Linked DNA regions of Homo sapiens: region 1 is linked to region 2. Evidence: fine-mapped QTL for protein levels in blood plasma. A gene starts in region 2. The other region holds a variant in brackets. All regions are shown on one strand. Distances are from middle to middle. Region 1 overlaps F10 (coagulation factor X). Region 2 holds the start of F10 (coagulation factor X).

What was found. PIP is the chance, under the fine-mapping model, that this variant and not a neighbour inherited with it causes the effect. Protein levels are from antibody-based Olink assays in UK Biobank. Linkage for the fine-mapping came from a reference panel and not from the study's own genotypes, which makes the PIPs less certain.
Region 1: its variant is fine-mapped to the plasma level of the F10 protein (UK Biobank, PIP above 0.99). The variant lies in the coding sequence of F10. If it changes the protein, the assay may bind it differently, which can mimic a change of level.

The regions. Positions count from the first base shown.
Region 1 is chr13:113,139,195-113,142,101 of GRCh38, forward strand. It overlaps F10 (coagulation factor X), which reads left to right. Exons shown (of 8, transcript NM_000504.4): 4 at 163-276; 5 at 1,725-1,856. LOC124903215 (a long non-coding RNA gene) reads right to left here and starts at 163. Exons shown (of 2, transcript XR_007063879.1): 1 at 1-163. The variant G/A (reference allele first, on the strand shown) is at 1,778.
Region 2 is chr13:113,121,573-113,124,470 of GRCh38, forward strand. It overlaps F10 (coagulation factor X), which reads left to right and starts at 1,227. Exons shown (of 8, transcript NM_000504.4): 1 at 1,227-1,353. The coding sequence starts at 1,284.

The DNA of each region.
Region 1 (2,907 bases), 18 kb after region 2:
GGGGTGGATCAAATAAAGTCCAAAGAGGGGGAGTTGTTTACAGAGAAACCGGAAGACTCTTCCAGTTATCTGAACGGCAGGGCCAAGGTTAGCACAGCAAAACTGTTTCCATGATGCCGGAAACAGCTTGCAGACTCCAGTTTCGAAATCCTCTCTTTGCAGATGGCGACCAGTGTGAGACCAGTCCTTGCCAGAACCAGGGCAAATGTAAAGACGGCCTCGGGGAATACACCTGCACCTGTTTAGAAGGATTCGAAGGCAAAAACTGTGAATTATGTAGGTTCCTCTGCTTGGTATACCTTCAGATCAGATGCCCCTGAAGAGTGGCAGGTGGGCGGGGGAAGAAGTGAAAACGCCTAATGAAACAATCTTAAGTCATTTCTGATTTACAAAGTCTGGGCTCTATTATACCTATTATACTGTGCCACTATAGCAATAGAAAAAAAAGCCCCAATATGTCCCCCAAACGATTCGGTTTGGGGGCATGATGAGAGAGACACAGTCACTTCTCTGCTCCTCCGAGAGAGACTGTAGAACATTGATGAAGCGTGTGATCCATTCATGTGTAAACAGGAGTGGACTCTCTGTTTTCCTTGGGGCCAAGTGCATTGCCCTGTTATTCCTGCTCCTTGTGACCCTGTGCAGTGATTCTAAATCACCTCTTATTTATGTGTATGGATGCAGGTGTCAATATTTGTGAATATTTGTGATTGGCCAATTATAAAAATTTGATACATTTAATTAGTTCTACGTGGAAAAATCACTAAGTGCTTTCTCTAATGTGGTGATTAAGTTTTAAATAAAAAGTTAGGCTACTGTTAGATCAATTTCCCTAAGGAAAAAGATTTGCATTTCTTTTAAAGTACTTAATTGATCATCTTTTTTTTTTTTTTTTTTGAGATGGAGTCTCGCTCTGTGGCCCAGGCTAGAGTGCAGTGGCACGATCTCAGCTCACCGCAAGCTCCGCCTGCCAGGTTCACGCCATTCTCCTGCCTCAGCCTCCCAAGTAGCTGGGACTATAGGCCCCGGCCACCAGTCCCGGCTAATTTTTTTTTTTTTTAATTTTTTAGTGGAGACGGGGTTTCACCGTGTTAGCCAGGATGGTCTCGATCTCCTGACCTGGTGATCCGCCCGCTTCGACCTCCCAAAGTGCTGGGATTACAGGCGTGAGGCACAGCGCCGGCCTAATTGATCATCTTTAGACTGTGTTCTTAGATTGGATTACTTTTGAGTTTTCCCTGATGAGAATATCAATTACGCATCATTCCATTCCAAGTCCGCAGTCGCCTCCCTGGAACACCATTTGGTAACTTATGAGGCATAACCCTGTTCAGGCTCCCAGGGCTATTATGCACATTTTCTAAAATTTCAGGCATGTTGATCTTTGCACTGTGATTACTTTTTCATCAAAAGCCACACAGAGGGATGTGGAGTGACCGTAATGTGAGTGCTGCTGGGGCAGGGGGTACCGGCCATCCCGGAGGTGTGAGGGGCAGGTACCTGGAGCCTGGCTTCTGGCTACACCGGGCACTGCACCATGAGCTCCCCGTGACCCGTGAGGTTGCCCTTCAAGGCAAGTGTACCTGTCGCCTGGCTCTGGCCCTTTGCTCAACCCAATGGCCGCTTTGTGGCTGACAGGCAAGTGGATGTAGCTGGCACCCTTGGGCCAGCCCAGCCTCCATTTCTCCAGCTGTCCCCAGAGCCAACGTGCCTCTCCTTTGCAGTCACACGGAAGCTCTGCAGCCTGGACAACGGGGACTGTGACCAGTTCTGCCAC[G/A]AGGAACAGAACTCTGTGGTGTGCTCCTGCGCCCGCGGGTACACCCTGGCTGACAACGGCAAGGCCTGCATTCCCACAGGTAGGAGGCACGTTGGGCCACAGCCACCCGCTGCCGCTGGGCCGGGCCAGGGAGGACAAGCCCGTGCCAGGGGGTGGGGACACAGGCATGTTCTGGGCGGGCCTGGCAGGTAACAGTGACACCAAGAGGACAGGACTGAGCCCTGGGCTCCGGGCCCAGGTGGTTCAAACATGAAGACCATGAGGTTTGGAAACAGACCCATTATTTCTGTAAGCCAGATCTGCTGTTTAACCTCAGCTTCCCCATCTGACAAATGGGACCAACACTATTGCCTGACTGCTTGGGTGATCCCTGGAGCACTTTGCATGATGCCTGGCCCACCGCAGGCCCTCAGTCTGCATTGGGACTGTGGGGGGATCCAGTGCAAGGGCTCAAAGCACCAGGGCAGGCAAAGGGCAGAGCTGGCCCGAGGAACTGGAGCTAAGGTGCGGGGCTGGGATAGGAGTCAGGGGACGCTCAGGCTCTGAGCTCCTTTTACCAGGACCAGTGTTCATTGAACGTAGTTTTTCTTTTCCTTGATGAATGTGGACAACAGGCGGCCAGAGGGCAGTGAGCACAGGACAGGCAGGGGACTGGGCAGGGTGGGGACGAGCCTCCCTGTCCTGACCCCGTGGGCATTGCCTACGCTGGGCTTGCCTGGCTGCCGGCACTTCCACACGGCCAGCACACATGAGGCCCTCGAAGGCGGGGCCTAGGCGTCACAGCTGCACCTTGCACAGCAACCCCACTCCCACTCATAGCTGGCCCGACCCGCAGCGTTGGCCTCACCCGGGGGCATATTCGAAGGGCAGAGTTCCAGGCCCGCCTTTTCAAGAGCCTGGTGACCCAGCTCACCTTCCGGCTTCAGGTGCGGCTCAGCCCCCAGACCGTGTTCTGCCCCCGGCTACCATGACTGTCCCCTCCAGACACAGGTTACTCCCGAGTGTTCTGTCACTCTTCCTTTCATATCCTTCTTACCGAAAACAATTTACTTCCAAAGATGAGTGATCACGAAAAGACCGGGTTCCATATGCATCCTTCAAGCGCTGCTTCAATTATGTGCCTGAAACAT
Region 2 (2,898 bases):
GTTGGTGCACACACCGCATTGGTCTCTCCATACAAACATGCCTAGAGGCGATGTCAGAGGGTGGAGACCAGGAGAGGCAGGAGTCAGACATCTGGTGCCACCAGGAAGGCCCTTCTCAGAGGACCAGGCTGTGCGTGGTGCCCGCCGTGGGAGGCCAGCCTGGCGTTGGCATCCAGCATCATCAGTTTGTGCAGTCGGGTGGGGCTCAGTGAGTGCCTCCTGTGTGCCAGGCACAATGACGCACAATGTGTGCACACCAGGCTCATGTGCAGGTGGCTGCGAGACAGGGCGACCCATCAAGGCAGATGCACCATGAGGCAGTGGCCAGTGCTGTGGGTGTTAGGGGCATTGCTCCCCGGCCACTACGGCATAGCAGGCAGTGATCGCCACACTGGCCAAGCTTTAGACCATTTATTCCAGAGACCCCAGAGGCAAAAAGCCCGGCTGCACCTCCCAGTGACTCCCACAGCCATTGAGCAGAGACACTCAGGACCTTGTGATGGGAGGTTTCTGCACTGGAGAACGAGCCCAGAAGCCCTCTCAGCCTCGGAACAGTGTGGCCAGTGGTGGGCAGGTCAGGAGGGGCTTCAGACACAGCCTGTCCCTCCAGATGGTCACGGGAAGGTCACTCCCCACAGAAGTACGTTTTGGGGCCATGCGGGCACAGAAGGTTTGGGGGTGGGTGGGGCAGGTGCCAGCCTGGCCTGTGGGAGGCCATGGTGCAGATGCCAAGCCCCCCCCGTGACATGAGACCACCTGATACCACCCAGAGAGTGGCTGTGAGCGGAAGGGCCCGCCCAGAAACAAGCAGGGCCTTGGGGCAGAAGTCCTGGGCTCAGATCCCACGCTCACTGCCAGCGGCCTCGGCTCAGGCTTCTGCGCTCTCTAAACTTAGTTTTCTCTTCTGGAAAAATGATGGGGAAAATGATATTTGTATGTGAGGACTGAGAGTTAAATGTAAACATCTGGAAACTACAAAATGAGCACGAAATGATGTTTTTATTCTTAGAACAGAAAGTCCCCACACCCGCGGCCCTGGTGACTGATGAGGATGAGGTTCTGCGGGGCCTCTCTGGCCGCCCAGCTCTGCCTGGGGAAGGTGGGGCCAGAGTGGATGTGTTCCCAGCGTGGTCACTCCCCTGCCTCGCCAGCAGGTCTCGGCTCCAATCAGGAGGCCTAAGCCAAGTGATAAGCAGCCAGACAACAGCCATCCCAGCTGGGGCGTGGACTTTGCTCCAGCAGCCTGTCCCAGTGAGGACAGGGACACAGTACTCGGCCACACCATGGGGCGCCCACTGCACCTCGTCCTGCTCAGTGCCTCCCTGGCTGGCCTCCTGCTGCTCGGGGAAAGTCGTAAGTGCCCCTCGCCCTTCAGACCCAAAAGCAGCGCCAGGGAGCAGGGAGGGGCGGCAGTTGGGGAAACCCTCTCATCTCTGCAGCCTGGACGGTGGGTGCCTTGAGTGCTGCCAGAGGCTGGGCTCGGATGGCTGGGCTTGGCCTTTCCAGCCAACGGCATCCTCAAGGCCAGCTGTGGCTCCCTGGGGCTGAGAGTCAGACGGGCGGATCAGAGGTCACAGAGACAAAAACACAAGGACAGAGTCAGAGAGAGAAAGGGAGAGGGAAGGAGAAACGGAGACACAGTGAGATGGGAGGCCAAGAGGCAGAGACAGAGGTAGAAAGACGGAGACAGAGAGAGAGGGAGGGGTTGGGGCAGGCAGAGACAGGACAGTTAGCCATCTGCCACCACAGGGAGGCACAGGACGAGGGGCACAGCAGAGGAGCTCCCAGGGAGGAGGAGGCTGAGCCGAGCCAGTGCCACCACTCTCGGACTGGCTCCGTCGGGGAAGGAGCTGCCTAATGCACAGCTGGACAGGTGGGGGCAGCAGGGCTGTCCAGGACCCCCGGGTCTGTCCAAAAGCAGAGGCCCAGACAGGACAGAAGCCAGGCAAGCCTGGGGACAGCGGAGGAAGAGGAGGCCCCTCTGGTGGGGACACGAGAGACAGGGACCCTAGACTTGTTTGCATCCTGGACAAAGTGGACAGGCAGGGGCACCAAGGGGACCCAGGCCTGGGAAGGGAATGTGTGAGGGAGAGACGGAGCAGGGGGAGACCCTCGTGGGGTGGAAAGGGGAGACCCCTGGGAAGGCTGAGTGGATCCTCAGTGCATCACTGACCTAAACGGCCCCTCCGCCTGGTGACTTGGAGCTCCAGTCACATCACACGGGGGTCTTCTCCATCCCACCCTCAACCCCCTGCCCTCCCCAGCCTCTGTCCCCTGAGCCACATCTTCCTGTCTCCCACGCGGAACGGGACTCCCGTCTTCATGGGGTACTGTGTGGCTCCAACTCGCCCAGCCTTCTTCCTCCCCCTCAGGCCACACTGCCCCCTGCAGGAGCCCACTGTGATGCTTGTGGTGGGATGAGATCAGCGTGGGTGGAACAAGGCCCTGGAAGGACCCATGCCATCATCATCGACAGCAAAGCTACTCTGCAAACAGACAGATGCTTCCGCGAATTGGTAGAAAATTCTGCAGCCGGAATGCTCTAGGATCCTGAGGCCCTAAGCCCGGCCCGGGGCTCCCGAGGCCCTAAGCCCGGCCCGGGACTCTGGAAGCTGCTCTGGCTTATTGGGAATGGAAGTTGGCAGGACTCCTCTTCCTGGGAAGAAGCAGAGGGTGGGGATGAGAAGACAGGCCAGGAGCCCACCCAGACCCACAGGAGGAAACTAGGGGAGTTATGCAGAGTCCTGGTGGAGCGCCAGCTTCCCTTCCTGCCAATGGGAAATGCAGGCGCCCACCTCGCGGACCTCTGGGTCCACAGGGTATTGGCACCCTTAGCTGTGTGATGCGGGCCTGGCTCATAACCATGGCCTGTGGTGTCCCCGGGGGCCGGCCTGGACC